Regions from separate parts of the Homo sapiens genome. Here regions 1, 3 and 4 are each linked to region 2. Evidence: fine-mapped expression QTL. A gene starts in region 2. Each other region holds a variant in brackets. All regions are shown on one strand. Distances are from middle to middle.

Evidence for each region.
Region 1: its variant is fine-mapped to the expression of TCERG1L-AS1 in sun-exposed skin (GTEx, PIP 0.96).
Region 3: its variant is fine-mapped to the expression of TCERG1L-AS1 in thyroid (GTEx, PIP 0.98).
Region 4: its variant is fine-mapped to the expression of TCERG1L-AS1 in thyroid (GTEx, PIP above 0.99).

What each region holds. Positions count from the first base shown.
Region 1 is chr10:131,308,853-131,316,152 of GRCh38, reverse strand. It overlaps TCERG1L (transcription elongation regulator 1 like), which reads left to right and starts at 4,432. Exons shown (of 12, transcript NM_174937.4): 1 at 4,432-4,859; 2 at 6,854-7,000. The coding sequence starts at 4,518. It overlaps LOC101927461 (a long non-coding RNA gene), which reads right to left and starts at 4,297. Exons shown (of 3, transcript XR_242763.6): 1 at 3,879-4,297; 2 at 1,874-2,019; 3 at 375-1,497. The variant A/G (reference allele first, on the strand shown) is at 3,890.
Region 2 is chr10:131,090,995-131,098,294 of GRCh38, reverse strand. TCERG1L-AS1 (TCERG1L antisense RNA 1) reads right to left here and starts at 3,077. Exons shown (of 2, transcript NR_120623.1): 1 at 2,996-3,077; 2 at 2,518-2,907. TCERG1L (transcription elongation regulator 1 like) reads left to right here. Exons shown (of 12, transcript NM_174937.4): 12 at 4,977-5,904. The coding sequence ends at 5,133.
Region 3 is chr10:131,199,014-131,206,313 of GRCh38, reverse strand. All of the region lies in intron 4 of TCERG1L (transcription elongation regulator 1 like), which reads left to right. It overlaps LOC105378563 (a long non-coding RNA gene), which reads left to right. Exons shown (of 5, transcript XR_946484.1): 4 at 192-1,795; 5 at 2,060-3,761. Among named protein-coding and RNA genes, the nearest start is that of TCERG1L-AS1, 110 kb to the right of the region's middle. The variant C/G (reference allele first, on the strand shown) is at 3,267.
Region 4 is chr10:131,166,299-131,173,598 of GRCh38, reverse strand. TCERG1L (transcription elongation regulator 1 like) reads left to right here. Exons shown (of 12, transcript NM_174937.4): 5 at 6,714-6,802. Among named protein-coding and RNA genes, the nearest start is that of TCERG1L-AS1, 75 kb to the right of the region's middle. RefSeq lists an enhancer at 5,793-6,293. The variant A/G (reference allele first, on the strand shown) is at 3,461.

The sequences.
Region 1 (7,300 bases), 220 kb before region 2:
CCTGACTCCATGTGGGGGTCCCTGTCTCTCAATTATGAACACAGGTACACATTGTTTAAACAAACAGGCCACAAACTACTCATCTGCCTTGGTGAAGGCTTGGGGGGAGCGATGTGCACTAAGCACCTGCTCTGCACCAGCTTCTGGGTGGCTCTTTTCACACGTGTGGTCCTTCGACAGTTGCAGAAAGTCAGCACAGTGGATGCAAATTCACACGACAGGGTGCCCCGACCTGAACCTCCATCTGTCCTCCATGGGGTATTTGCTCTGCTATTGATAAGTGGGTTCTTCTAAGATTTTTAAATAATGTGGGGAAATGCTTATGTTGCGATACTGGGTGAAAAATAAGATTTAAGGTTACATATAGTACAGGCTGCATTAAAGCTATTTATTAGAAAATGCAATTTAATATAAAATGTAATACTGTATTACAAGATGCAATATATTATTCATACTACACACACACACACACACACATACACACGTATACACGTTAGAGAGAGAGAGAAGTGAGGAGAAAAAATGATTGTACAGAGGTCACCGAAAGGTTAGCACTGCTTCTCCCTGAGGGGTTCTGACTCATAATGCTCCGCAGTATTTTCCAGATATGCTACAGTAACACACTGATAACAAAAATAACAGTAATAACAGCCTTTATCAGACAAGCATGCTCCTGGCTGCCCAGGCGGCCTGTGGGCCCAGTGTACCTCGCTCTGTCTTTCGCTGGGAGCCTCACTTCCCGTCACTTGATTCCATGAGTGGCCTCTCCTCTTCCCACTCTGTGCTTGCCTTGGGCGATCCCACCCACATCTTTGATCACAATCACTACGGACAGCTGCCACTCTCGATTTTTGTGTTAATTTCAGTTCTGTGGCTCCATCCAAGACCTTGCTCCTGAACTCCTGGCTGAAGTTTTCAATTGTGAAGAGGATAAGTCTTTCCAGGTGACCTTGGAGCCCTCCAGGTCAGCACGTCTTCGCCAACCTCTTGGCCCATGGTGCATCCCAGAGGGCTCCTCATCTCTGAGCACAGACTTTCCAGGCTCTCCCCAGTCTCACAGAACAGGGGGAGCCACTCTCACACCCTCCTGCTCCTCACCCTGCACTGAGTCAGGTGTCACACTGCTGATTCCTTCTCTGGGTCCTCGCTGGCACGGCTTTCATTCAGGGCCTCATCATCGCGCAGCTGGCGAGTGTTCAGAAAGGAGTTGGTCTGATTGGCAATTGCTTTGGAAAGAAGTTCTGGCAGCGTGGGCGGTGGGTGGTGCAGGGAACCTCCGAGGTGATATGCAGGGCCTAGACCTCCCTCCTGTTTCCCTGCTGTTTACTTTAACTCTGCAGGGCTGGAAGGAAATGTTTTCATCTCTCCCATTTTGGGATTCTATTAGGTTTTACTTAGAAAAACAAAATAAAATAACTTCCAAAAAGAAAAAAATATTCTATGGGCTTCAAAATCTTATTCCACTGATGTCTCTGAAACCTTCCCCATGATTTTTTCCTGAAAGGTAATAAACAATCGGGAACTCATTAGCACATGTAGGTAATTCACACGTTTTCCCTGCTGCGGATCTCCTCTTCCTAGGTGATATCCTGTCTCAGCTTAGCAGGAAATTTCTGCTGGTTTTGCCCAAATAACATGGAAAGACTTAAGGTTGTTTTTATTGGATAGGAGAGCTGGAGACTAGACTGTACCTAAGATGCTTTATAAAGCAAATTTCTCACTGATTTTTACAGGGAAACAAAGGGCGAGTTTATGGGGTGCCTGCCACCTGTCTGCCCAGGGCTGACCTCTGGGGGCACTCACAGGGAGGGAGATGTGCCTGCCAGCACACATCTCTCTGGCAGAGAGTCCCAGCTCAAAGCTAGACATTCACCTGGCTTCTGGTCCCCAGGAAGAAGGTGGCATCCTGCTTGTTTGTGTGACAGCTGTCTTCTTTGCATCTTCTTTGCCTTCGCTCTTTCAACCATCCTCAAGATGTACAAATGACATTTGCAGAACCGGTTCATGGAGGCGGTCCTTCTAAACAATCATTGAAATGAGTGTATCTATGAGGGGGCTTCTCCTATCCATGAGGGTGTAGAAGGTTCCCGGGTTAAACGGGATGAGAGGCAAACCTTGAAAAGAATCTGACAGAAATGAGAGCCAGGAGGAGGGGGAGAAGCCCTGTGCTGGGTCCTTGGCCCTAGCAACGATTAGTGGAAATGGCCGTGCCTGCGTCGTTGAGGGCTGTTTTCCCATAATTTAGCACACAGAATGGTACAGAAAAGGGCTCCCAAGCATTGTCATACAAAAGGAGAGTCAAGCTTGTGGCAGGAAATAGCAAGAGTTTAGGCCGCTTTGTGGTTGAGTCAAGAGCTGCTTTCGACTTTCCAGCTCTTCTTCAGAGCCAAGTAGTGGCTCAAGGGGTCCTGAGCTCAGAGCATCAGGAAGCCCGGAGGGGTGCTGGCAAAAACGGACTTCAGCAGAACCCTTTCTAGGACAGTGGGGATGGGGCTGGGATTCCCCAAAGGAGTGCTACAGCTCCCACAGACTGTGGCCAACCCTACCTTCCCAGGAACCTGGGGGCCACACACGCAAAACCCTGCTTTTGCAGAGAACAGCATGCAAGCCAGGCACGAGCACCCCTGGCCTTCTGTCTCTGCCTCCAAGCAGAAGGAAGGAGAATCTCCTGTGCAAAAGGGACTATGCGGTGGGGGAGGTGGGGGGTGGCAGGGGCATGTGAGCCTGCCTGGAGACGCCTCCCCAATATCCTGATCTGGCTCTGACCATTAAACTAACACATTTATAACACATGTGCACATACTAATATATGCACATAAATTAAGGGTGTAAGTGAATAGTAACAGCCTTCTAATGTGCAGAGCTTTCTGATTTTAGGTGAATAAAAAAAATGCCAGTACTTTTGCATCAAAGAGAGAGATAAACTTGCTAATTGAAAACTGGTTTTCGTGGAGGAAAATATGGAGGCGCCAGCTATGTAAATCAGCATATGCCCAGATCTAAAAGAAATCAGGCCAGGCCAAGAGGAAATTAAGCAAATCAGGATAATGAGGAAACAACCCTAGACGCAAATTAAAAGCACTCGGGTGCTTTAGGCCATCTCAGGAGGTTGGCAGTGGACAGGTGGGAGGTGATGCGAACACGGGTTTGGAGTACCAGGCGTGTCAGTGCCGCTGGGTGGGTGGGTGCCTGCTCTCCCACCCAGGTCAGGGAGGGTTTTTCATGCAAGTTCTTAAATGCATGGATCATAATGCTGCCTTTTGCATCCAGAAAGACCCTTCAAATGCCTCTAACAACACTGGTCTCGCGCTGGCATTAGCTGTGCTTGGGTTTCCTGGGTTTAGCGACCTAAGGGGTTTACAGCGCACGGAAGTCTCTGCCCAGCTGTCAGCGCGCGTCGCCAGGGGCTGCACTGAAGCTGTGGACCCGGGATGGGGAGGAGGCTGGCGGCCTCCGAAGCAGGGTCTACAGCGGGGGAGGGCTAGCGCCGTCTGGCGGTGGCTGCGCGTGGCCAGTGCGGACCCAGGCTCGGCTCGGCCGGCGCTGCCTGCGTGTGGTCCGGGCGGAGCGAGGGTCCTTGGAGCCCGGTTCGTCCTGGGTCCCAGGAAGCTCGGCGTGCAGCGTCAGAGGCCGCGTGTGCTGGGGGAGGGAGGAGTACAGACTGTGCCTGGGGGCATCCAGGACGAATTCACAGAGGGGTGGTCCTGCCCCACCCAGGGGGTGTCGTGGGCAAAGGCCCTGGGGCCACCTGCCTGGTGCCTTGGAGGGCGTAGGGCAGGAGCCGCCGAGGCCCGCGGGCCACTGTGGGGCGCGGAACTTCAGACCAGGCACCCGCGGCTCAACTTCCGGGCCAGGGGACCCGCGGGGGCCTTACGAACCTGTTTGGCCC[A/G]TTTGTGCAACAGAAATCCGCCCGCGCCTAGCAGCGTCCGGGGCCGCCTGCGCCGGATCCGCAGCCCAGTACCCTCCGCGCCCTGGACTCCGAGGAGGCCAGGTAGAGAGCGGCTCGCGCGGTCCCCGTCTGCGCCCTCAGCCCCGCGCTGGGCAGCGGGACATGCCTGGCTCCGGCGCCGCCACCTCGGCTTCCGCTTGCCCTTGAGTGCGGAGCCCGGAGCCTCCCTCGCGGTGCGCTGGGTCCCAGAGGGCCAGAGGCCACCAGGGGGCCGGCATCGGCGGGAGCCCAGCCGGGCGCGCCCTCGGCCCTCTCCCACCCACGTCCTCCGCGGCCGCCCGGGTCCAGGGGCGCAGCGGGGAGGAGACCCCGGCCAGGGCCGGGGAGCGCGAGGGCGGGGCGGGGTCCGGCGGGGAGGGGCGCGGGCGGGCGGGGACCGGGGCGGGGGCCGGGTCCGGGGGCGGCGGCGGCGCGGGCGGGAGGAGGAGGAGCTTCCCGCGCGGGGCAGGGGCGGAGCGAGCGGCCGCGCCGCGGAGCCAAGTGAGTTCGCTCCGGAGCCGCGCCGCCGCCGGCCCAGCATCTCGGGCGCCCGCCGCCCCCGCCGCCGCCGTCAGCGCGGGGATGTAGGATGCAGGCGGGCGCCAGGTTCCAGCGGCGGCGGCGGCAGCTGCAGCAGCAGCAGCCCCGGCGGCGGCAGCCTCTCCTCTGGCCGATGGACGCAGAGCCGCCGCCGCCGCCGCCCTGGGTCTGGATGGTGCCGGGCTCGGCCGGGCTGCTCCGGCTCAGCGCGGGGGTCGTGGTTCCCCCGGTGCTGCTCGCCTCGGCCCCGCCGCCCGCGGCCCCGCTGCTCCCCGGTCTCCCCGGCTGGCCGGCCCCGAGCGAGCCGGTGCTCCCGCTGCTGCCGCTGCCCTCTGCGCCAGACTCCGCCGCCGCCGCCGCCGCGCACCCCTTCCCCGCGCTCCACGGGCAGGTAACGTGTCCCCGTCCCGCCTCGGCCCGGGTCGCCGTCTCCCCTGCTCCTGGGCGCGCCCTGCCCGGCCCGGCTCTGGCCTCCGGCTCGCGCGCCCTCCTCCCCGGCGGTCCTCGCCGCCCCAAACCCTCAGGACGGAGCCCGGCAGCCGTGCCTCGGCGAGAAAGTTCGTGCTTGGACGCCCGGTCGTCCACCTCCGCAGCTTTGGCAGGTGCCTCCGGGTGTCTGGACGGAGCCGTGGAGGGACCCGCCGCCCAGGCCCGCGTGGGGACCGCAGGGAACTCGCGCCACGCCGGGGGTCACTGTCCATCGCGAGGTGCTGAAGTGGCTCCGTGACCGCCGCGGGCCGTGGCTGACATCGCGGAGAAGTTAGGACTTTCACAGTCTCTGCCAGACTTGAAAGCAAGCTGGAAATCGATAGCTGTTTCAGCTGTTTCAGATTCTAATCTGGTTTGGGTTTTTCCCCCTTTCATTTGAAAATAGACTCAGGGCAATGCTTAAGAGAATTCCAACCGACGGAAGTGGCCGGGAAATCCTGCCTTCGGTACTGAGGGATGTTACCGGAGATTCCCCTGCCCCAGGCCTGCCGGAGTCCACCACATTCGCTAATGCCACACTGCACTTTAGAACTAGAGTTTGGCTTTTAAGACATGGGATTAAAAAGAAAAAGTGACTGAACCTTTGATAAATGGTGCAGCAGAGCTAGGCGGGCTGGTTTGGGCAAGATTCATTGTCAGCTAACTATGCAGATGCATTTAAATCAGGGAATAGCGTGCATTTTATTCCAAGGATTGACCTCATTAGCATATTCAAACGGGTGTTATGTTAGAATACACCATTTGATTAATTTAATTCCAATATTATCTTGTGAGCTTTTCTAAAAGATGTTGTTAAACTCCTGCTAAATTGGTCTTTAGACTTAATGATACATCACATATGCAGCACTGGATATTGTATTTTTATGTGTGATGCAGTTTATTTTGGATTTTATTCAAGAAACGTTGGTAGTTTTTGCCGTATTTTGGAGGGGTGTTATATCAGAGTGCTGCCACTAGAGGTATATAATGTCAAGGAACTACATTTTTTAAATTCTGCTTTAAAAAACTGCATTTTTTCACTTATATAAATTTAAAAGAAAATTTAAAAAACCTTAGCATTAATCTTTTAAATATTTTTGTGCTACCCAGCTTCTGTAAAGTAAGAATATGTACAACCAGAAGAACATTTTCATGTAACAGGAACATCACAAATGCTTTTACGATTTTAAAACAATAGGTACTGAAACGTTCCATGTCATTGAGCAATGCATTTTATTAGTGCCTTATGAGGTCTCAGTTATTTTAATTAGAGAGACGGTGCCCTGAATTACCAGCCCCTTTCCATGACTGATGTTTTATTCTGTGTATTGAGATCTTCAACTTAGAAGATGCTTAGTTTTTTTTTTTTTTTTTTTTTTTTTGCCATAGAATCTATTTGTATTGGTGAACCTTGTATTGGTGAAACTTGGAATCTTAACTTCCTAGATATTTTCATTTTGAAAGTATTAGTTATTTGTAAAACGACAAAAGTAATTAATACAAAATGCAATGCTGAAAGGAATATTATAAAATATAGCCCTAAGCCTGCCTATAAAAATAATTTAAGAATTAGAAAAGGAATACCCAGCATTTCTCTTCTTCATGGTGATTTCTCATTATCTCAGAGCAGAAACCCATTTCTTACTGCGTGCTTGTGGTTTTGTGCTTAGAAGTTCTTTTTCAGTATTGAAGAATGCAATGTTGGTAATGCTTTGTGATGATTCAGATATGAAAACTTCTATAATTTTTTCTTTGATTGGTACATACTTATAGTTTTTCTCGAGGAAATTTATCTGATAATCAAATACATACATTTTGAAATTCCCTTTTCAAAGCAGTTATTCCAGCATGTTTTGGCATGAAGTCGAGTGGATGGATTCAGGCTAATGCAGCTGTCTTTTCTTGCTTGGCTTGCAGTGGCTGTTTGGTGGCCATTCTCCGTCCCTAGGACTGCCCCCCTCTTCCACAGTGGAGCTGGTGCCCGTCTTCCCACATCTCTGCCCTTCTGCTCTTGCAACCCCTATTGGGAAAAGTTGGATAGACAAAAGGATTCCTAACTGTAAGGTAAAAACGCAAGTGATTTAATTGGATAAGGGGCTTTTAATGATTAAGTTGTCGAACATCGACATAACAACAAAAATACCCATGTATTTTCTTGTTGCCATAAATTGGCCATCTAGGTATAGAAATAAATCATTTCAGGATTAGATTGATTTGTTCAAAAATATCAGCTGGTGGGGGGCATTTTGTTTTAGTTTAGGATATTTGGATTCCACAGGGCAATGTAAAATTTCCAATTTTTGAATCAGAGTCTTTTTTAAAATTTTTTTGTTTTTAAATTTGTATCCATTGATCAAAAATCTA
Region 2 (7,300 bases):
GAAATATACCGGATGATTTCTGGGGCTGGGAACTTACCAATGACAAGAGGACTCTTCAGGTTTGTTTTTGTTAAATCGTGTAACCCAGCCTTCCACAGACACGAAAGTGTGAGCTTTGAAGACCTGCCAGTGAGACCAGCCTGGCTCCCCTCTATCATGCTGCCTGTCATGAGCCTCCAAATGTCCCTCTCATCAGTCCTGGGAAAGTGGGCTATTTGCTAACCAAATGCATCACAACCATTTTATTCCTACCCTGCATGCATTTCAAACGTCAGCAGCCCTGACTGACCCAAATAACCAATCAATACGTGAGCACTCATGAGATGAGGTCTAGTTTCTGATCTAATGATCAAGAAGCAAAAATGCAAAGCTGACTACAAACAACAGCACCATAACCCCTACCACACCCCTTGGTTCCAGATGTCTTAACAGTTGGTCCCAGAGTAAAATGAAGATTTGATACACCGGACAAGTGAACTGAGTTAACTAGGTTGCCAAAACTTACTAAAATAATAAATGAGGCATTATTTCCATGAAATAAGACACACTTACAAGAAAATAGATGTTAGAAATTGGAAGAATACATAAGCTTAACTCTTTCTTAAAAATTAGCTTTAATTGACTGATCTTTAAAAAGTAATGAACATGGGCCGGGCGCGGTGGCTCACGCCTATAATCCCAGCACTTTGGGAGACCAAGGCAGGTGGATCACGAGGTCAGGAGATCGAGACCATCCTGGCTAACACGGTGAAACCCTGTCTCTACTAAAAATACAAAAAATTAGCCGGGCGTGGTGGTGGGTGCCTGTAGTCCCAGCTGCTTGGGAGACTGAGGCAGGAGAATGGCGTAAACCTGGGAGGCGGAGCTTGCAGTGAGCCTTGATTGCACCACTGCACTCCAACCTGGGCGACAGAGTGAGTCTCCGTCTCAAAGAATAAAGAAATAAATAAAAAGTAATGAACATGTACTACTTTTAGAACTATAAAACTGTAAGTTTCGTAAGCATAAAAATGGTTAACAATGTATTTTTATTTTAGACTGGAAGATGCAGCATCAGTTTTTTGTTTGTTTCTTTTTTTTTTTTTTTTTTTTTTGAGACAGACCCTCGCTGTGTCACCCAGGCTGTGGTGCAATGGCACGATCTTGGTTCACTGTAACCTTTGCCTCCGGGGTTCAAGCAATTCTCCCTGCTTCAACCTCTCAAGTAGCTGGGATAACAGGCACCCACTACCATGCACAGCTAATTTTTGTATTTTTAGTAGAGATGGGGTTTCACCATGTTGACCGGGCTGGTCTTGAACTCCTGACCTCAGGTGATCCACCCACCTCGACCTCCCAAAGTACTTGGATTACAGGCGTGAGACACCATGCCCAGCCAGAATCAGTTTTTTCTTTCTTTTTTTTTTTTTTTGAGATGGAGTCGCTCTGTTGCCCAGGCTGGAGTGCAATGATGCAATCTCGGCTCACTGCAAGCTCCGCCTCCTGGGTACATGCCAAGTAGCTGGGACTACAGGTGCCCACCACCACACCCGGCTAATTTTTGTATTTTTAGTAGAGAAGTAGAGACGGGGTTTCACCATGTTAGCCAGGATGGTCTGGATCTCCTGATCTTGTGATCCACCCGCCTTGGCCTCCCAAAGTGCTGGGATTACAGGCATGAGCCACCGCGCCTGGCCTGCATCGGTTTTTAAATGGACATTAATTGATGCTTTCTATGAAGGCATAGGCCCCCTTTGTTTGACCTGTGATTTGGTTGATCAAGAATTAGGTGACCTAAGTTAGTGCTAGTTACACAATCCTCATAAAACTTCTCTAGCTATTCTAAGGACAGGTACTTTCTGAATAGGGAAAAAATAGCATGAATTATCTTCATCACAAGTGCTAATGTAGACAAGGAAATGTGTGTCCTGTTGCCTGCAACTTGTGATTTTCCATTGTTAAAGCAGTCATGAGAATGCTGGGTTCTAGCCATGGCTTAGCTGTGTCCACCCACCAGGTGGCCTTGGGACAGAGGCGGAGGAGGCAAGGGCTCTGGAAAGGTGCTGGAGCCCCTTCTCTGCCTTGGTTCACAGCCTGGCCCTGGCCCATCTTCTCCTGGCCATGGGGTAAGTATTGGACCTTCCTGTGCTCCCGAGCCCTCCTCCAAATGGGAGGATGACCACACACACCTCAGAAAGTGACGAGGAGGATGGCGTGAGGAGTTGCAGGGAGGGACCCCGACGGTGCCTGGCAGGCAGGAGGAGCTCCGAAAGTGGTAGCTGTCATTACTGCTATTGAGACCATCATTACTGTTAAAGACATCTGGCCAGCATTCTCTATTGATAAACTAGCAGCAATAAGCCACATACTCCCCTTCCCATGAATACATCATGAAGACAACGGAAAAAATATTCGGAATGCATTGAGCCATTTAAAAAAGATGACATACACACATACACGCACACAGAAGGAAAACGAGTGGTAGAAATTAGAAGGGAGTTAAACGGACTCTTTTTAAAATGAGAGTTAATTGCCTGCTATTTTTTAAAATAAATTTTATTGTATATATTTAAACTATACAACATAATGTTATAGGGCACATAGAGATAAGATGCTTACTATAATGTAGCAAATTATTTTAAAATTTACACTGGGATATATTGCTTTGATAATTATAAAGCTATTTTTTTCATTTTAAAAGTAGCTAAGTTTTCAACATTTCAAAAACTTTTTCCAGATCTTCTGTATACTTTTCTGTAGGCATCCTAGTGAAACATGTACAATTCAAATGACCACATGCTGGAGAGCCAGGCGCGTCCCCATGCAGGCGACGTGGGCCTCTTAGAAGCAGCCTCCTGAGGCTGTGTAGCCTCCTGCAGCCATACAGTCCCGTCCTGGTCGCCCGTCTCAGCCTCGGTCCTGAGCAGCCTGTGGGAATGGTGGCGACGGGACAGTCCAGAACACTCCTGGACAGCCCCTAGCCCCAGCCCTGCCCGCCTCTCGGGAGAGCAGCTACCGGGGACTGGGTCCTAGCCAGGTGGGGTTGGCCGCCCGGTGGGGTTGACGCCCGGTGGGGTTGGCCGTCCGGTGGGGTTGGCCGCCCGGTGGGGTTGACACCCGGTGGGGTTGGCCGCCCGGTGGGGTTAGCCGCCCAGTGTTCCTTCCTGAGAGCTGCAGCAGCCGCCTCCTTCATGGCAGGCTGGCCCGAGTCCCACTTAGCAGAGGGAGAGCAGAGATCCAGGGCCTGTGAATCAGCTGACCTTCGTGAGTTCACACCACAGCTCATCAGCATCAGCAGAAAGCCGGTTGCTGCCCCTTGGCATGGCTAAGGGGCCACGGAAGCGGGAGGCTCCCTTTCTTTTCAGGGACTCTTCTTTTCAGAGAGGCCCAGAATAGGGCCTGTCTAGCAGCTGCCCCTGTCCAGCCCCTAACTGAGAATGTGTAGATGCCTGTCTAGCCAGGGGAGCGTGGAACAAGCCCAGGCAAGTCTGACCGTTTGACTCATCCCCCGCAGGTCGGGGTGGAGTGTGGCTTAGCCAAGGTACACCAAGGTGGTTACATCAGTAAAGGAAGGAAGGGGGAAGGAGGGAGAGAAGGAAGAAAGGAACCGGGAGAAAAGGAGGGAGGGAGAGAAGGAAGGAGGAAGGGAAGGCAGGGGAGAGGGCAGGAAGGAGGGAGGGAGGAAGAGGGAAGCCAGAGAGAAGCGCTTTTCTTGCGAGAGATGTGTAAACAAGCACCCCCACAGACGGAGAGCAGGAAAACGGCAGCGCCTTGGGGAAGGAATGAGACGAATTGTTCAATGACAGAAATGAGCATGAGTCTGCTAATTATTTGTCTTGTCTTCTAACAGCCATGTCGGCATAATCTTGTTGTTTGTATATTTCAGAAGCTATTAAGTTATAATAATTTAACACAATAATTCCGTGTCTGCAAGGAAGTGTAAAATTCTCTGTAAGGAGAAGTGGGAGGGAATAAGAAGAATCCCCCGGACAAAGAATGTCCACATTTTCCGTGCACCCCAGAGCACACTGCCCAGGCCAGGCCCTGCCCGACTGTCGCTGGACAAGCGAGTGCATCTGCATAGGCCAGCGGCTCCAGGCCTTGGTCCCTCTACCTCTGTCCCTGTCCCTGGCTTCAAGTTCAAGGCTAAGAGAACAGGAAGTTGCGGGGCCCGGTGCCTGCGAAGGTCAGTTGGTCACAGCAGAGGCGCATCCTGTTTTGCCCTCTAAGCTGCCGTAGCCTTGAGAACAGCCTTGCTGCTCTAGGCTGGGTCGCTCGCATTTTCTTACGGGGCACCACCTGGCCTGGCAGCTCTGATTCGCTCCATCAGTGTTTGGGGCTCACTACTTGCCAGGCACTGGGCTGGACATTCAGGGCATTTATTGGAGAACGAAGCAGATAATGTCTCCCTCATTCGAATGTGGGAGTCCAGTTCCGCAAGTGAGGTTTAACAAGATCACCACTGTGAAGAGGGCTGTGATGGAGTCACAGTTCTCTGAGCCTCTAGATAGGGCGAGTTTCCCAAAGAAGACCCCCTGGCCTGGTTTCTCATGACGAGCAGCTCTAACTGGGGGAAGAAACAAGGGAAGGGTGTACCAGGCAGAGGGAACAGTGTAAGAAAGACCGTGGCAGGCAGAGCCTGGTGGCAGCAAGGGAGGGGCGGAGGAGACCTGGCCAGCAAAGCTGTGATCGGGGCGGCTGGGGGAGTGACAGCTGCATGAGACGGCTGAGGAGGCTGGTGGGGGCCGCTCATTTCCGGAGACCACTCAGAGGAGAGACAAGGGGGTCCTGCAAGTGAGGGTGGGTCAGGGCCCTGCAGGACCCGGGTGAGGAGCAGGCACGGCTGGTCAGAGCCGCTCACCCACCGGGTGCCCTGCCACCCACGGCCAGGCCTGGTGGAAGGGCTGGATGCTTGCTCAGGCGGTGCCGCTGCAGGATCTCTGGGGAGGCCAGAGTTGCTCTCTGGAAGGTGTCTCAGGAAACTCTTTCTTTTTCAGGACCACGTTTAAGGAGTTTGCAGAGAAATACGGCCGGGATCAGAGGTTCCGACTTGTTCAAAAAAGAAAGGACCAGGAGCATTTTTTCAACCAATTCATACTTATTCTTAAGAAACGGGACAAGGAAAACAGACTAAGGCTGCGGAAAATGAGATGAGTTTGTGAAAAAATGCAATAAGCCCGGGGGTTGACCCTGGGCGTGCCGGGGGCGAGGGGGTCACGGTGGAGACGGACACGGGCGTGGGGCGGCCGAGACCTGCACGGCCCAGCGGGCACCGGCACTGCGGGGTCTTCGTTCTCAGAGGATTACTGTTTCATATTGAAGCTCTCTCTTTTGTACATTCAGAGTTTGATGCATTTCTAATCACCGTGATACGTCGATCCCTTAATTGTTTTAATTATGCAAATTACTTGTAATATACACAAATTATCAATCCACTGCAGGACTGTGGGGAAGCAGGAACGGGAGCCTCTGTAACAATCTCAAGGCATTTGTGTCATCACCTAAGACGATTGGCGAAAACTTTTCTGAAAACCTTTGTGAATTACTTCGTTTCTCCAGGATTCCCGCAGTGTTGAGGAATTCCTTACTCTGTCCCTAGGTCTCAGTCTCGTTTCTGAGTAGCAGCAATAGGGTTTTCATCATTCATCATAGTGACAACTGTGAGCATTCCACACCTGGACCGTGGATCACTTACAGGTTTCCAAGGGTGGCCGCGCGTTCCTCCCAGAGGGGCGTCCCGGCCTGGAGCAGGGAGCCGTGTTGGTTGCCACCGGTCCTACTTCAAAAGAATTATTTTGTACAAAATCATCATATTAATATTTGAGTTATTTTTATTGTATGCCCGGAGTTTGCATGAGATTTTTTCTCATCACCTTTGTATAAAAAATTTTTAATTTTTTTTAATCAATAAATATTTTAAACCAGTGTGTGTATGTGTGACTAAGACATTCCCCATGATCTTAAGCAGCAACATTGTGTTTCAACTAAAGATACCCAGTTTTGAAAGATTCAGGGAGAAAAAAAATCCCGATGATTGCAATAAGGGCCATGAAAATGCCACTCACACAGAATCTCACTTTTCAACATACTTAGTAGTCCTGGGTGGAACCACGTTTGGCAAAACCTTCACTAATTAATTGCATTCCTTAAACTATTAAACATCCATTCATTTATTTCAAGATTTATGGAGTTCTCTGTTCAGATACAATGTCTTTGTCCCCTAGTAAACAGTGACACAGCCTCCTCACCTACCTTCTTCTTAATTAGTTCCCATGAGAACACTTTTTTCCACACTTATTAGGATGTAATTGGGCAAGGTGGGATCCACTCTCCACTGAGCTCAGCCCTGGTCCCGACACTGTCGCTGTTAACACCTCACCTTCCGTGTTGGGTGGCCCCTGGGGGTTCCAGGGCCGTCGCTCAGCTCAGGCCATTTTTGACACGAGCTGCCCTCCTACCTGGCCATGACCTGTGGAGTTGGAAGGACCTGTGACGGTGCTGTCAGAGCCAGACTCCGGAGGAGCAAGTGCCGATTGTGGATCAGCGAGGGGCTGTCAGGAAAGCGAGACTTCCCTGTGATTTGAACAGGGATCTATTAATGGATCTATCAATGGATGACTACCCCAGGGGATGGGAGTCTGGAGGCTGCTGAGTTCAGATCACTGAATAGCATAGGGATAGCAGGTGACAGCAGCAGCCAGCGCCCCCAGGGCTCCAGAGAGCATCCAAGGAAAAGGCCTCTCCACCAGGGCGGAGGGCTGCAGCCCTTTGAAGAAGGCATAGCTGTGGCTTGGCGCAAGGAGACGTGTAATTGAAATGCTGTGCGATGGGACTTGCTGGAAACCCCACCCTGGGGTGCTGCGGACAGTAAGTGTGTCTCATTAGGAGGACTCTGCCCAGAGCCACCAGGGAGGGATGTCGGGGTGGGGGAAGCTGCAGGCGCTGAGTGCTGCTGGCACCTGTTAGGGCGGGGCTGCAGGATTGAAAGGGAGGAGCTTCTGGGGACCCTGTGGGTTTTGCAGGAAGGCAGTGCCCTCTCCTGCCACCCACTGTGATCCATTTGCAAAGCCGCTGCTGCTGGCTTCTTGCCCTGGTACAGGCTGACAACCCGAGCACAGAATACCCAGGGACTACAACCTGCGTGGCCCCTGGACTGCTGTCGGATCCACCCTACACGAAACCACAGGTGCACAGCAGCATTTCACTTACAGTGGACACAGCATGGGCAAAGCAGGCCCTGACCAGTCCAGGGAGACTCAATTCCTGGTCCCAGCCCCACCCCTGCCCACAGTACTGCCTACTGCTGAGCTCCTGGTCCCAG
Region 3 (7,300 bases), 110 kb before region 2:
GGGCTGACCTCCCTGCCCAGTGCCCTGAGTCCACTCCCAGGCTGCCAGCCGGTCCGCAGGACCAGCCCTTCTGGTGACCCAAGATGGTGTTTCCATGAGGATTTGCCTTTGCGGACCTTGGCGTACACCCGATTGGCAGTTCATTCGTTGTCCATGACATCCTTCAAATCCGCCTGTACTTCTTATTCCAGAGCCACCAGCCAGTTCTCCCGCCTGGGAATCCTGAGGGCTTCGTGTCTGCAGCATCCATTTTCCTGCCCTTTCAGAGTCTTCCAGACAAAGGAGCTACAGAGCTATAGTAAGACCTCTGTGGTCATATGGCAAACCATCTGCCCGTGGACCCCTGCTCATATGGCAAGCTGTCTGCCCACAGACCCCACAGAGACCTGGCACAGGAGCCAGGTGGAGGGCAGTCACCACCTCGGCCCTCTGTCGTAGCTTCCCAACTCTGGGTCCATCCCAGGGGCTCCCACAGCCTCCCGTCTCCTGCACCCTTTGCATAAAACATCTTTTGGATAAAACAACCTTTGCAGCCTCTTAGGAAGGATGAGGTCCGCCGTGCTGAGCCTCCAAGACCAGGTGACCTCAGCAAGGTGGCTGCGGACATGCTGCCTTTCCAGGAAGTGGCAGTCAGAGATGCCAGGGTGGCCCCATGACCCCAGGCCAGGATGTGCCCTGCCAAGGGAAGGCCATGGAAGGCGGCGTTTACCTCCACGTCCCCAGGGCTGCACTGGAGCTACTTAAGAGAAGCATTTTTAAATAAAAGTTCAGCCTGTTACAAAATTCCCTAATGTGAGATACAGGCTGGAATGAGGCAATTCCACAGAGAAATCATTGTGGGAATAATTCACATCTAATGTAGTTTCATGAAGGATGCTATTTCCAGAGTCTAACTTTTTCTCCCTTTTTCTCTCACTTTTTGATTTTATTGCTGTTTTTTTTTTTTTTTACATTAGGAGAAATTGAAAACCTGTTTAGGTTTCATAGCTTCACATTTCTGAAGCAAGTGACACAGCAGAGAGTTGGGATGCATCTGATTTGTGCCTCACAATGAGGCGTGCACGTCACTGGTTAATTATGTGGCGTTCCATAAAGGAGAGCTGTTGGGATAAAAGGATGAATTGCGAGCATTAACCTTCTTTTTCCCTTTTTAAGGGGACCACTTGTCAGTCACAACGGCAGTAAAGCCAGGTGTAATGAAATTGGATTTTGGGAGAGGCTGCCATTGAGTTGATGCCATGGGCCGCTTGGTCTGGGAGAGGCTGGATTCTCAGTGCAGCCCCAGAAAGAGCCGGGTGGCAGGGGTTGAGGGCATGACAGGTCCAGGGACAGGGGCCTTAGACCAGATCCAGCTGCAGAGCACGTGAGCCCTGACCCCATGGTCAAGACCCTGGACTTCAAGCAGAAAGGCCACTGGGCTTGTGGTCAGAGATGGTGTGAACCTCCATCAAGGATCCCTTCCTCTGCCTGTTCATAAAACCGAGAGGTGGGCTCTTCTCTCCAGCCAACCTGTTCTGCCTGGGGCCAGGCTGTGAAGGGGCTGAGGGACAAGTCCACTGCCATCGGGGCCTCTCCCTGAAGGGAGTCTTCTGCCCCAAGAAACATTCTTCCCTTACCCGCAGGCTCATTGGTTTATTTTAGCCTCTAGTGGAAGGACACTGGACAGATGTCCTTTGATTTGAGGACACACACCTTTGGATCTGAGCTGGCTCCGTGCCCCACTGGAGCCCACACAGTGACTGTGGCCACCGCTGCTGGGAAGCCAGGACCCACCATCACGGACAGTTTCTCCACTGTACATGGGAAATGGCTTTGACAGGTGCTTTCTGGCATTTGGGGTGGATGGACTCATCCTCATCCCCATTTTCAAGCTGTGCATATGGAGGCCATGTAGATGCGGGGGCAGGGTGGGGGGGCAGGTGCCAGTTTCCTGAGCCTGCTTGTGGTGGGGCCATCGGGCCAGCCCACTTGCTGGTTTGTGACCTGTCTCAGTCTGTTCCCGCTCCTCTATACTCTTAGACTAGACAATTTATAGAGATGAGAAATGCTTTTCTTACAGGTCTGGAGAATGGAAAGTCCAGGACCAAGGCATCAGCAGATCTGGTGCCTGATGAGAGCTGCCAAGACCCTAGCTAGGCCCAGGCCCAGTGCTAAGCCACCAGGCTTCCAAGATGGCGCCTCCTTGCTGTGTCCTCCCATGGCAGGAGGGAGCAAGGGCTAAGAGGGCCTAGCTGGTTCCCTTCGGGCCTTCCATGAGGTCGCTCATTCCATCCATGAGGGCTCTGCTCTCATCACTTCACATCTCCTAAAGGTTTCACCTCTTCATATCGTCCTATTGGGGCTTAGCTTCCTACTTTGGGGTTTTGTGGGGACTCACGTATTCATGCCCTAGTGTGACCTAATGTGACATCACGCCTCTCCCCTCCCAGCTGGGTTGCGGTGGAGACAGCCAGCTGTCCCCTTAAGATGCCCACCCCCCACTTGGAGGAGGTCTGAAGTGGAAAGTGGCTAGGGAGGCTGCCATCACATTTCCCAGGCTGCCCCCAGGGCTAGCGCTCGCCGGCGGGATGTGAGCAGAAGCAGCAGTTAGGAGAGTGCCTTCCCCACCTCCCGGCCCCTACTGGCCTCTGGATTCCAACCTCTCTGAAACTCGGTATGGCAGGGCCACAAACCAGAAGCAGATGTGTCCCTGAATCGTTTGCGGTGACCCACATTCATCCTCATGGGAGAGACGCACCATCTTCGAATGTGAACGGTTGACATGACGGGGGCGTTTTCCCATGAGGCTGAGAAGTCCTGTGCATGCATTCCCTTAAAATAGAGACGTGAGCACCTGTGATTGGGGCCAGCTTGGATGTTCTACCAGAGGCAGTTTGCTGTCTGGTCAAAGAGGTCTTAGGGTGCTTTTTTGTCATCAGCCTCATTAAACAGTGAGCTGATCTTAAGTGACGAGACCATGAAGGTCACCACTGTGACATACTGGAAGTCTTTTTTTTTTTGAGACGGAGTCTCACTCTGTCACCCATGCGAGAGTGCAGTGGGACGTACTGGAAGTCTTAAGTGAGGTCATCTACCACCCAGCTGTGCTCTGTAACCCAGAGAGCGCAGCTCGGAGGGCTGAAGACAGGTATACGCATATCCATGAACACTGTCACTACTCCTGAGAAGGCGTCACTGCTGTCATTGAAAAGCTTTGAGGGCTGTTGTCTATGGTTCTTGAATTTGTAAGTGGAATTCCTGGCAGCTGTGTGATAAATCAAGCACAT[C/G]GGTGTCGGCGTGACCTTTGACTTCTGTCCCCACAATCTGTGAACCAGAATAAACCTCTTCACTCAAACTTCCACTTAGGATGGCACCTGGTTAATATGAATCATGAAGCAATCAAAACTGAGGTGTACGTTTCCACAGACGGCAGACTTAATTATTTAAGTGTTTCTTTTTTCTAAATAAACTGTAAAAAATGAACATATTTTATTTTAAAAATGGAAACAATTTAGAAGCTTATAGAATCAAGCTCCTCCCAACCCTATTCTTCTCATATTGGAAACTTCTATTGATAATCAGATAATCAGAATATTTCCAGTGTATTCCATGCAAGCCTATGGATTCCTGAAAATGTGGAGAGGATGTTATTGACTTGAATTCCGCTACGTTACTGTTTTACTTAGCAGTGTACCTTAAAGACCAAAATGTAGTGAACTTGAAAAAATCTGTTTTTTATTTTTATTTTTTTTTGGAGATGGAGTCTTGCTCTGTCACCCAGGCTGGAGTGCAGTGGCATGATCTTGTCTTACTGCAACCTCCGCCTCCCAGGTTCAAGGGATTCTCCTGCCTCAGTCTCCCTGTATCTGGGATTACAGGCACTCGCCACCACGCCTGGCTCATTTTTGTATTTTTAGTGGTAATGGGGTTTCACCATGTTGCGCAGACTGGTCTCGGACTCCTGACCTCAGGTGATCCGCCCTCCTCGGCCTCCCAAAGTGTTGGGATTACAGGCATGAACCACCGCGCCCGGCGAAAAAGTTCCGGCCTTACCAGCTTTTGTGGTACCCCACGGTGCAGACATGCGCATACCTACTTGCTTTGGGGGCATCAGTCTGTTTCTAACGTGGGCTGTTACAATCAGTTGAGCGTGTACGTTCTCTGTGCTCCTTCATGTGGTCGGGAGGCTCACGTGCAGCTGGTGATCATGCAGTTTGGTACAACGCTTCTGGAAAGAAATGGATTAATATAAATCGAGACTCTTAATTAGTTTGTCTGTTTAACCCAGCAGTTCTGTCCATGGGACCTTTCCTAAGGAGCAGTCATCGGAAACGCATTACAGGATCTGGAGAGAACCAGCCCCCGTGACCCCCACGTGGCCCTGGGACTTGTTAGAGCTTTCTAGCATCTTTCATTGGCTCTTTCCTCGTCTCTGAGGAAGGTCGATGGATGCGCCTTCAGCACAGCGTGGTGGTGGACGTGGGGTAAAAGAGCAGCCATGTTTAGCAAAGCCGGCAGCTCTGAAAAACTCACTCACAGCTGAGCATTTAGAAGGTCATTACAGTCCCGCAGAGAAGGACGCATGAGGACATCCCACAGAATGCAGTGTAAAATTCGGAGATTAAATATAAAAAAGAAGTCCAAATGCCCAACAGCAGCAGCAGAGCAAATTGCAGTCCATGTTTTGTAGAAATATTTGGCAGCCATTGATTTATTTTATTTTTATATATTTTTTTATTTGCAGCCATTTAAATCATGCTTATTAAGAGCTTCTAAGATTGTGGCGTTTGTTAAAATAGTAAGTAAAGCAACAATTCTACATTGGCAGTGACGGGTCCATAATGAATGAATGAAACTGAAGTACTGGGACCCTCCTTTTTGGCGCCTTACGAGACCCCGGGGAACTCTTGGCGCTGTGCTCCCACGATCACGTGTCTGTGTAAAATCTGCGGATGTTCGATGGCCTCAGGAAGGCTGCTGTCTGTTCCCAGCGTGACCCTCTCTGTCGCTGTCCCTGCCTTGTGGGTGGTGGTGGAGTGTTTGTAGGTGTGGCAGGACCCAGCTGGGGGAAGGGAGGTGCTTCATTTAGTTTGAGTTTAGTGGGATGTGTTTTGGGGGCTCACTTTCCAGGGAGGCAAAGCCAGCTATGCGGGTGGTGGGCCTGACTCTCAGGAATTCTTTCACCTCTTGTGATGGTTCCAATGTGTCCCCTCCACGTTTCATGTGTTGAAACTTAGTTGCCAGTGTGATGGTGTCAAGAGGCACGGCCTTTAACAGGTCATGAGACCACAAAAGCTGCCCTCCACGTCCAAGATGGCGCCGTGATTCTGTATCCGCCCGAGGGGAGGGAGGCTGTGTCCTCACAGCACTGGCAGGAGGGGGAAAGGCAAGTGGGAGATAACCGTGCGAGAAGCCTCTTTTATAAGGGCCTCCATCCCCTTTGCCAGGGAGGATCCCTTGTGATCTAAGCGACTCCTAAAGGCCCCACCTCTTAATGTGTTCACATGACCATTAAGTTTTAACTTCTAAATTTTAGAGGGGACATATTCAATTATATTATTCTACTCTGACCCTCAAAACTTGAGTCCTTCCCACACGCAAAATACATTCATTCCATTTCAGTAATTCCAAACGTTTTAACTTGTTCTAGCATCAACTCAAAAGCGCAGAGTCTTTTAAACATCATATGAGTGAGACCCAAAGTGTGATTTATTCCGAGGAAAATTTCCCTCCAGCTGTGAGCCTGCGAAATCAAGCAAGTCATCCGATTCCAAAATACAATGGTGGAACACACATAGGATAAACATCCTGATTCCAAAAAGGAGACATAGGCAAGAAGGAAAGAGTAGCTGATCCAAAGTAATTTCAATACCCAACAATGCAAATGGCATTACATCTCGAGGTTTGAGAATCACCTTCTTTGACTCCATGTTCCAGACACAGGAGCAGGGGTTGGGCCCTCCACACTCCTTGGGGTGGAGTGGCCAGGAACTTGCATCAGACAACAGAGCTGCCAGTGCCTTGGCCTTGGACTTCTGTCCTCTGTTCTTCATAAAATACCCAGCCTCAGCTCGTTTGTCTAGCAGCACAAACGAGACTAAGGCAGAAACTGGTGCTGAGAAGTGGGCTATTGCCATAAAATATACCCAACATGTGAATGCAGCTTTAGAACCAGGAATGGGGCAGAGGCTGGAATCGTTTCAGAGTGAATGCTGGGAAAAGCCTGCATTGCCATGAACAGAGCATTAAGGACGATCCTGGTGAGAGCTCAGAGGAGGGGAGAGCTGTCGGGAAAAGTAGTGATATAGATGGGAAGGGCCATTCAGAGGAGGCTTCAGATGGAAAGGAGGAATGTTGACCTAAAGGGAGAAGCTGAGACACAGCAGGTAATTTTACAGCCTTTGCTAGAGCCAGAGTGAGGGCAGCCGCCGGGACACACTTCTAGGTTGCATAGGGGAGTGCTCCGAGTAGGTGTTTAAAGGCGAAAGAGAACGAGGGGTGGCTGCTACAAAGCTGTCGGGTGGGATTTCCCACTGTTTACAGGAGGGGCACTGTTTAGTGATTGGCTGTGCACTGCTGAACACAGGGTGTGATGATGGTGCCTGGTATGTGGCCCTTTATGACTGCTTGTTGTCAGTTGAGACCCCACAGAGCAGGTGGCTTCAAGAAGTAATTATTTAGCTCAAGGGGGTGTGACGTGACTGCTGTCATAGTTTTAATGCCCATTTAACAGGCCTGTTACTTTAAAGGGGCTTGCATTCCTCAGATAAAAAGTTTATTTTCTTTCTCAGCAACAAGGTATTGGAAACTGAGGGAAGGGTACCCTTGTTATAATGTGGCCAAGAACTGGGTGAGCTGTGTCTGTGTCCTGGGACTTGGTGAAGGCAGAGCTTTGCGAGCAGTGAACTAGGACATTTGTCAGGAATCTCTAAGCAGCAAGGGGTTCAGGATGCTTCTTTTGACCTTATAGTAAAATGTGAAAAGAGGGAAACAAGTTAAAAATGGAATTTACAATCAAAAGAGAAGCAGAGCTTAAAGTTGGAACATCCTCTGTCTGGCCAGGTACAGAATGAGAAGGGGGTTGGGGAGAGAGCACCAAGGGTAGCCAAGGCACCCTTTGATCAAAGGGTGAGTACAGATAGGCCACGGCCAGATGCTGTTCACCAGACAACGGGAGCAGGAGCCTGCAGGCATTTCAGAGAGCCTGGGGCTGCCAAGTCCTTCACAGGCCCAGAGAGCCAGGCCCTTGAGGGTGGAAGGGCTCAGGGAGGGGCCCAGGGTGCCCATGAGATCTTGGGGCTCACTGCGCAGGGCTGCCTCA
Region 4 (7,300 bases), 75 kb before region 2:
GACACTCAGCATGAAGATGGCACGCAGGCACCTTCCCAGGGGCAGGGTTCCCTTAGATACTTTGGTTCTCATTGAAGAGGCTGACTCGGAAAATCAATGCAGTCACCACGCCTCATTCAGGACCATATACAACGGGCCCTGACTGTGTTATTTTTATTACCTTAGCCATAAATTGCATTTTCCCCTTATTTTATTATCAAATTTTTCAAAGGAGCTCAGTACCGGTTAAATTGACGGATAATTTGTGCCCTCCCTACTGGGTTACTTTATAATCTAGAAAATGCTCACCTAGTCTGCTTTTCTCAGTTGTTAAATGAGATCAGTGTGCCTACTTTATCTCAGCATCTTGGAAATTATTTCAGAAGGGTGCTTCCAGGGAGGCAGTAGGCAAGATTAAAATATCATTCAGGCCGGGTGGGGTGGCTCACACCTGTAATCCCAGCACTTTGGGAGGCTGAGGCGGGTGGATCACCTGAGGTCAGGAGTTCGAGACCAGCCTTGCCAACATGGTGAAACCCCATCTCTACTAAAAATACAAAAATTAGCTGGGCGTGGTGGCGGGCCCCTGTAATCTCAGCTACTCGGGAGGCCGAGGCAAGATAATCAATTGAACCCAGGAGGCAGAAGTTGCAGTGAGCCAAGATCTTGCCATTGTACTCCAAGCCTGGATGACAAGAGCAAAACTCCATCTCAAAAAAAAAAAAAAAAAATCATTGATTATTCTCTCTACAACAATTCTGCAAGTGGATGAGACCTTATATGCTCTTGGATGTGAAACCATTCATATATGGAAATGGGGTCACTAGATTGTGACAAACACAGAAACAGGGCTCCAGTGACTCCCGGTTGGCTCCTGCCACCCTACCACCATCATGGCTGGCACAGGCCTGGGTGTTCTCCCCAAGAATGGAGGCGACTGGACAGGCGTGCATGTCCAACCAAGCAAGGCTCGCGTGAGCTGGTCTCAGGGTCTGCTCCCAGCTGCGAGCGGAGCCAGCGCGCGTGGAGCACGCGTGATATGGATGCTCCTCATGAACCCTTTTCATAATGGCTGTAGTCTACAACAATCGAGAACTCCAAGCCCTCCCAGTTTCCTCCAGCCTCAGGGGTGGTGGAGACCATCTGTGAGTCAACGCCCTCCTCAGCCTAAGAGATTTCCTGCCTAGTTCCAAGATCATCAGAGGAGGTTGGTTTCAAATGCATGAGCGGTTGCTCTCGGCTTTCAGAATAGAAAGGTGAAATTCTCTCTCCCTGTTCCTTGGGGCCCATTCACTTCCCTGGGTTCCCCTCCTCCCCCGTGGGGTCCATTCACTTCCCCGGGTTCCCCTCCTCCCCCGTGGGGTCCATTCACTTCCCCGGGTTCCCCTCCTCCCCGGGCAGGAAACCAGAAGACGCATGTTCTTACAGCCTCATGGTGAGGGCTGCAACTCCAGTTCCTTTGGGATTTACTCCACACGCTTCCAGATATCATGTTGACACTTGGAATCCCAGAACTGGAAGAGAATCAAGACAGTTTCTTTTATGGATGAGGAAACTGAGGTCAAAGGAGGTCAATATTTATGGAATTAAAATTGGACTGACTTTCAGAATTACTTTTTGCATTGGGAGATACTGATATATTTCTAATAACTTTTTGATGAGTTAGACACTTTTGACTTCCTAGAGTAGTTCTTTATTTTAATAATTTTTAAAGAAACAAACTCTTTTGAATGTTAAAATAAATTCCTGGGCCAGGCGCAGTGGCTCACGCCTGTAATCCCAGCACTTTGGGAGGCCGAGGCAGGAGGATCACCTGAGGTCAGGAGTTCGACACCAGCCTGGCCAACATGGTGAAACCCTATCTCTACTAAAAATACAAAAATGAGCCAGGTGTGGTGGCGCATGCCTGTAATCTCAGCTGCTCGGGAGGCTGAGACGGGAGAATCACTTGAAGGACAGGAGAATCACTTGAAGGTTGCAGTGAACCCACTCCAGCCTGGATGACAGAGTGAGACCCTGTCTCTAAATAAATAAATAAATAAATTCCTGATACTTCATTCAATGTAAGAAGCATTTGCTGGTCTTAGGGTGTGTGATGACTACATGGCATATGCCATCAACTGGACCCGCATCCTGGTGCTGCCTTTGAGCTGAGGCCTGACCCCAGGTGATGATGATACCTTTGAGTCTTCACCTTCCAGGCACTCTAGGAGAACAGGTGCCTCGGGCCTGGATTAATGACTGAGAAGCGCAATACGGAAAAGCTTCCAGGACCCTGACCCCGGGTCAGGCACAAGCAAACCCACCTCCCCCTTCTTTCAGGGAAACAGGGCGAATTGATTGCTGAGTTCCAAGAGTTTCTGAAGCTAAGACTTGCCCAGGAGATAGGACAGTTTTTCTTTCCACACTTTTCTTTCTTTTTTTCTTTCTTCTTTTTTTTGGTGTGTGTTTTTGTTTTTGTTTTTGTTTTTGTTTGAGATGGAGCCTCGCTCTGTCACCCAGGCTGGAATGCAGTGGCGTGATCTCAGCTCACTGCAACCTCCGCCTCCCAGGTTCAAGCAATTCTCTGCTTCAGCTTCCTGAGTAGCTGGGATTACAGGCATACACCACCATGCCCAGCTAATTTTTGTATTTTTAGTAGAGACAGGGTTTCACCATCTTGGCCAGGCTGGTCTTGAACTCTTGACCTCGTGATCCGCCCACCTCGGCCTCCCAAAGTGCTGGGATTATAGGTGTGAGCCACGGCGCCCGGCCGCCACACTTTTCTTAAAGAGATATTTTGTTGCCCGGTTTGACTTCAAGAGGCTGGTGTTGAATACTTTTCCCCTGGATGCCCTCCCCAGTCCCTGCGGCCCTTTGAGAGAGGAGGAGAGGAGTGTCTAATTGCTCACAGTACTTCCTCTCACTTCTTCCCCACCAGCAAGGACGGTCGTGCTGGACTCTATAAGAGCAGTGAATAAATGCTTGTCAGCTGACTGGCGTGGGAGTTTTTAGCACAGGCTTTTTTGCTTCCTTCCAGACTTCATGCGACCTTCTCAGTTCTCTTTGTCTCTCATCACTGCCAGGAGGAAAATTACATTGAAGGGCACTGGGGAGCTGGGGAGCACTTCACATCTCAGAGCTGGGTTTGATCAATAGAGGCATTGCCCAGAAAGGTATTACCGCCGTGCCTCTCTCGGAGGGCGGAAATACATTGCATGCTCCCCGAAGTACTTTAGCGCCCATGGTCTTACACTTGTTGATTTTCCTCCATAAACTAGTTCTGTCTGCCACTCAAGGGAGGAGTTTATGACAACATCATCAGAGTTTGTGGAGAGGCCCAAAGCAAAGAGTACTTAAGCATGTCAGAGTGGACCCTGGAAGTGGCCCCCGGAGAGCCGTAGAATAAGCACTTCCACGGTGGAATGGCTGACACGCAGACCCAATTATGTGTGTGAGCCCCTGGTGCCACCCACACACCTCCAAGGTACCTGCAAAATCA[A/G]TGACTGTGAAAGAGTGCCGGTTATTAAGAAAACTATTTAGGGCAAGGCACAAACATTTGTCGCAGGTATTCCGGGGTGTGTGTCTGTGACTGGGGGCTTTAAAATGATCATCAACAATATCTCCTCTAAGAAGCACTCATGAGGAACAATGTAAATCCGTTTATCTCAAAAGCCAGACTTTAAGATCTGATTTTTTACAAGATCAACTGTTTTCAATATGAAAAATATCTTAATATGTTTTCTCAAGGTAATGGGGAGTAAACTAGGCAATGCTGTCATTTGAGAACAGTATTATGGGCTTACGGCCTCCTCGCAGGCTGCCAGTGTTCCTAACACAGTTTTTCACAATGTGTATTTATTTACATGCTCGTAGAAGATACAGACGTGCATTTCTGCTACTGAGATTGCTGTGTGTTTTATAGGCACCTGCCATATTGAAAACATAGAGTGTGTGGCATATAATTAAAACACAACCTCAGCTTTCCGTGCACGACCCCTCCAGACTTCCTCCCTGGGACTTGCTCTTTGCTGTACTTTAGATAAAATTTAAACCAATTCACTTTTGGCTCATTCTTAGGTAGTAAAAAGCCATCCACTCATATCCAGTCAAAAAATAGGTCTCAGAGCAGTCGTGAAATATGTGGAGTGCTGGGTCATTGAATCACCAAGTTTAACTTCCCTCGTCCCATCGCTTGGGCCTGCTTTGCGTTGGGTCTGTGAGGGCAGGGGAACGGTGGGCTCAGCTTCCTTTGTGTGCCCCCTTGTGCCTCAGTCAGGGGGCTGCTTCTGGTGTCTGCAGGATGGAGGCAGAGGGACAGAGCCCTGGGTTTTTTAATGAGGGTTCCCCAGGGCATGGCTGTGTCCCCATCTGCTTGCCCCTTTCTGTGGCATAGAGGTAGTGACCAGCTAATCCCATCTTGTAGATGAGGAGGCAGAGATGGGGTGGGGACAGGACGACCCTGCAGGATCAGGACAGAGACCCGGTGTCCAGGCTGCTTGATGACCGCTGCACCTTGACAAGAATGGGCTCTGGGAGTAATTCTTAACAGAGTTCCGGAAATCTTAATGCAATCCAGGGACTCTGCTTCTCTTCCTGAGTGACAGTAAAATATTTCCACTGTCCTGAAATCTTTTCTTGACTCAGGCTTGGTTACCTGGTTCAGTGAAAAGCCGATAGTCCCTTCCCCAAGGCCAACCTTGAAATAGACCTGTGCACGCAGCTGTCAGGCCTGAGGGCGTCTCTTGGGGTGGTCATGGCTGTATGGGAGCCCTGTGGTCGGCCTTGGCAGGCCTCTTGTGAAGGAAGAGTGTGCAGTGTAGACTCTGTGTGGACACCCTCGTAAAGTGGCAATGACGGAGGAGGCCGGCGCCCTCAGGGATCCCTGCTCAGCCTATTTGCCAGCAGCCGGCACTAAGGGCAGACCAGCCACCCAGCCCTGGGGAGAGCCTGCCCGGCAGGGCGCTGTGCAGAGTGAAAGAGGTGGACAGGCTGGGCATTCCTCCACCCGCTCACTGGATGGAGGGGAGTCAGGGGTGGAATGCTGTGTTTCTGCCTCATCCGAACTCAGCACCTCCGGGGATGGGGCCTCCGGCTCACGTCTGGGCTGCCTTAGTGTTGCTGCTCCGCACCTGAAATAAATTTGCTGATTGACCCAACTCAAATGAGGGGCTTCCTCCCAAGGGTGCTGGGGAGGGATGCCTTGCAGACCACCTGGCTCTGCAGCCGCAAGCCAGACAGGTGCCAATGCCCACGGAGGACATGACAGCTGGCCCCATGCAGAGCTATGCAAATCTCCTTCCCGGAGCTGCAGAGGGGCCCCAGTTTGCAGTGGGGCAAGGAAGAAAGGCTAGAAGGTGGGGTGTGCCAGTGGGACCCCCAGTCTTGCCTTTCACCCCCTTCAAGCACAGACGTGTAGCTTGAAGGGGCCAGAGGACATCCTTTCTATGTGTGTGTGTGCATATACGCACCTGTGTGTTGTGTGCACACACGTATAAAGTGATTTACGTTAATTCCCCATCCTTCCGTCTACCAGGAAGGAGCATACCCAGGCCTCCCTGACTGCACTGCCCAGTCTTGAGCTCTGGATCAAGCTAAACAAATCTCTGCTTCCCAAGGGTCCTGCCCTGCACACCCATGAGACCTGGCCAGGGCTTTCCTTTGAGAACTTATCTATTGTTTTAGGTTGGTGTGTGGTTAGATGGTTTGGGTCCTTCTTTTTATTCTTGGTATTAAAACAGAGCTCAACCTTGCTTTACTGTTTTTCCCTGAATCTACTTGCAAAATTTTGAGAGTTAGATAGACATTTTTGGAGAAGACAAAAAAGTAACAATCTTTGGGAATTTGCAGAATCCCTTCCTCCCCTGAAACAAGCACCTTTCCAAGTGCTGTGGGTCCGGCCCCCTGGAAAAACCAGGGCCCACCATGGCGGCCAGTAAGCCACGGTCACTGGCGGTGTGGCCTGCACATAGCCCCTCCTGTCCCCTTGGCAGGGCCAGGACCAAGGGCAGCCCATCATGGCCACCAGCTGGCAGAACCTCAGCAAGGCTGGTTCTGTTGTCCTACACTGGCCCTTTGTCCTTCTTGGGAAGGTCCTGTGTCCTATTCATCTGTGACCCACGTGGCCCAGTTCACAAGGCTTGGCCAACAGTGTTTTAGATGGCACCCAGCCTGGGCATAGATGGAGTCCAGGGCGCAGGTTGGCATCACTGGAGGAGGCTCCTGACTGCCCAGCGCACTGGGGGCCCCACAATGCGAGAGAGCAGCCCCAAGACATCCACACACCTGGGCACAGCACTCCCACCCTGGGCCCACTGGGCTGCGAGTGTGAGGGTTGTCACAGCCTCACCCTGGTGATTGTCACCAGATGGACAACAGCCAAGTCTCGGGCCTCCCACTTTTGGGCTTGTTTCCTGCTTGTCCAAGAGGCTGAGTCCAGGGTGGAGTGAACACTGCCTGCACACACAGGCACAGGAGAGGGATGCCGGGAGGTCGGGCTGGGGAGTCCAGAGGTGCATGTGTGTGCCCAGGCCTCTGGCCCCTGCAAACCCATTGTCAGGTGCATCCTCGCTTTGGGATGAGAACTTTGTCACTAGACTTCAACCCAAGGACAGGGCAATGCCACCTTTCTGTGGAATGCACAGTGTCTACTGACCAATTCTAATCTTCAGGGCCACTTTTTGTCTTTGATTGCTTAGGTTTTCCAAACTACTGTGACAAATGAAATGTTAATGACAACTGCTTTGGCCCAACAGATACAAGGACAGAGCGGGGCCGAGTGGCCCGCCCTCCTGCCCTGATGCTGCGGGCCCAGAAGAGCCGGGATGGAGACAAAGAAGACAAGGTCAGTTTCGGGGCTCGTGTGTGTGTTAAAGACACAAAACCCTGGGTGTGGAGGACCAGGGCCAGGACACCCTCACGCTTGTTTGCTGTATGGTGTTTGTGAAATGACTGCCATCTGCTGTGTGAAGCAGCAGGACCTGGCACTGAAGGGGCCAGGCGGGGCCTAGAGAGCAGGGACACAGCCCTTGCTGGTCCTGCCAGATCTGGGTCTGAAGCTCCCTGGGGGACTCTGTTGGGAAGGGATTTGGCTTCCATTTGAACTTTGTCCATTTTCAGAAGGAAGAGAAGACACACAAGGTAGTCAAACTCAGACACCACTTAGGCAAGAGGAAAGAAGAGCCAACACACTCATTCTAATTTCAGGTCTTTCTCTTCACTGGCTTGCCAAATGGCGTTTTAAAGACTGGCCAAGACAGTGCATTTGAAGCATTTCGTGTTTTCAATAGTACAGTCCTTCCTCTCAATAACCCAAGGGAGTCCTTTTTATTACTGCATTTCA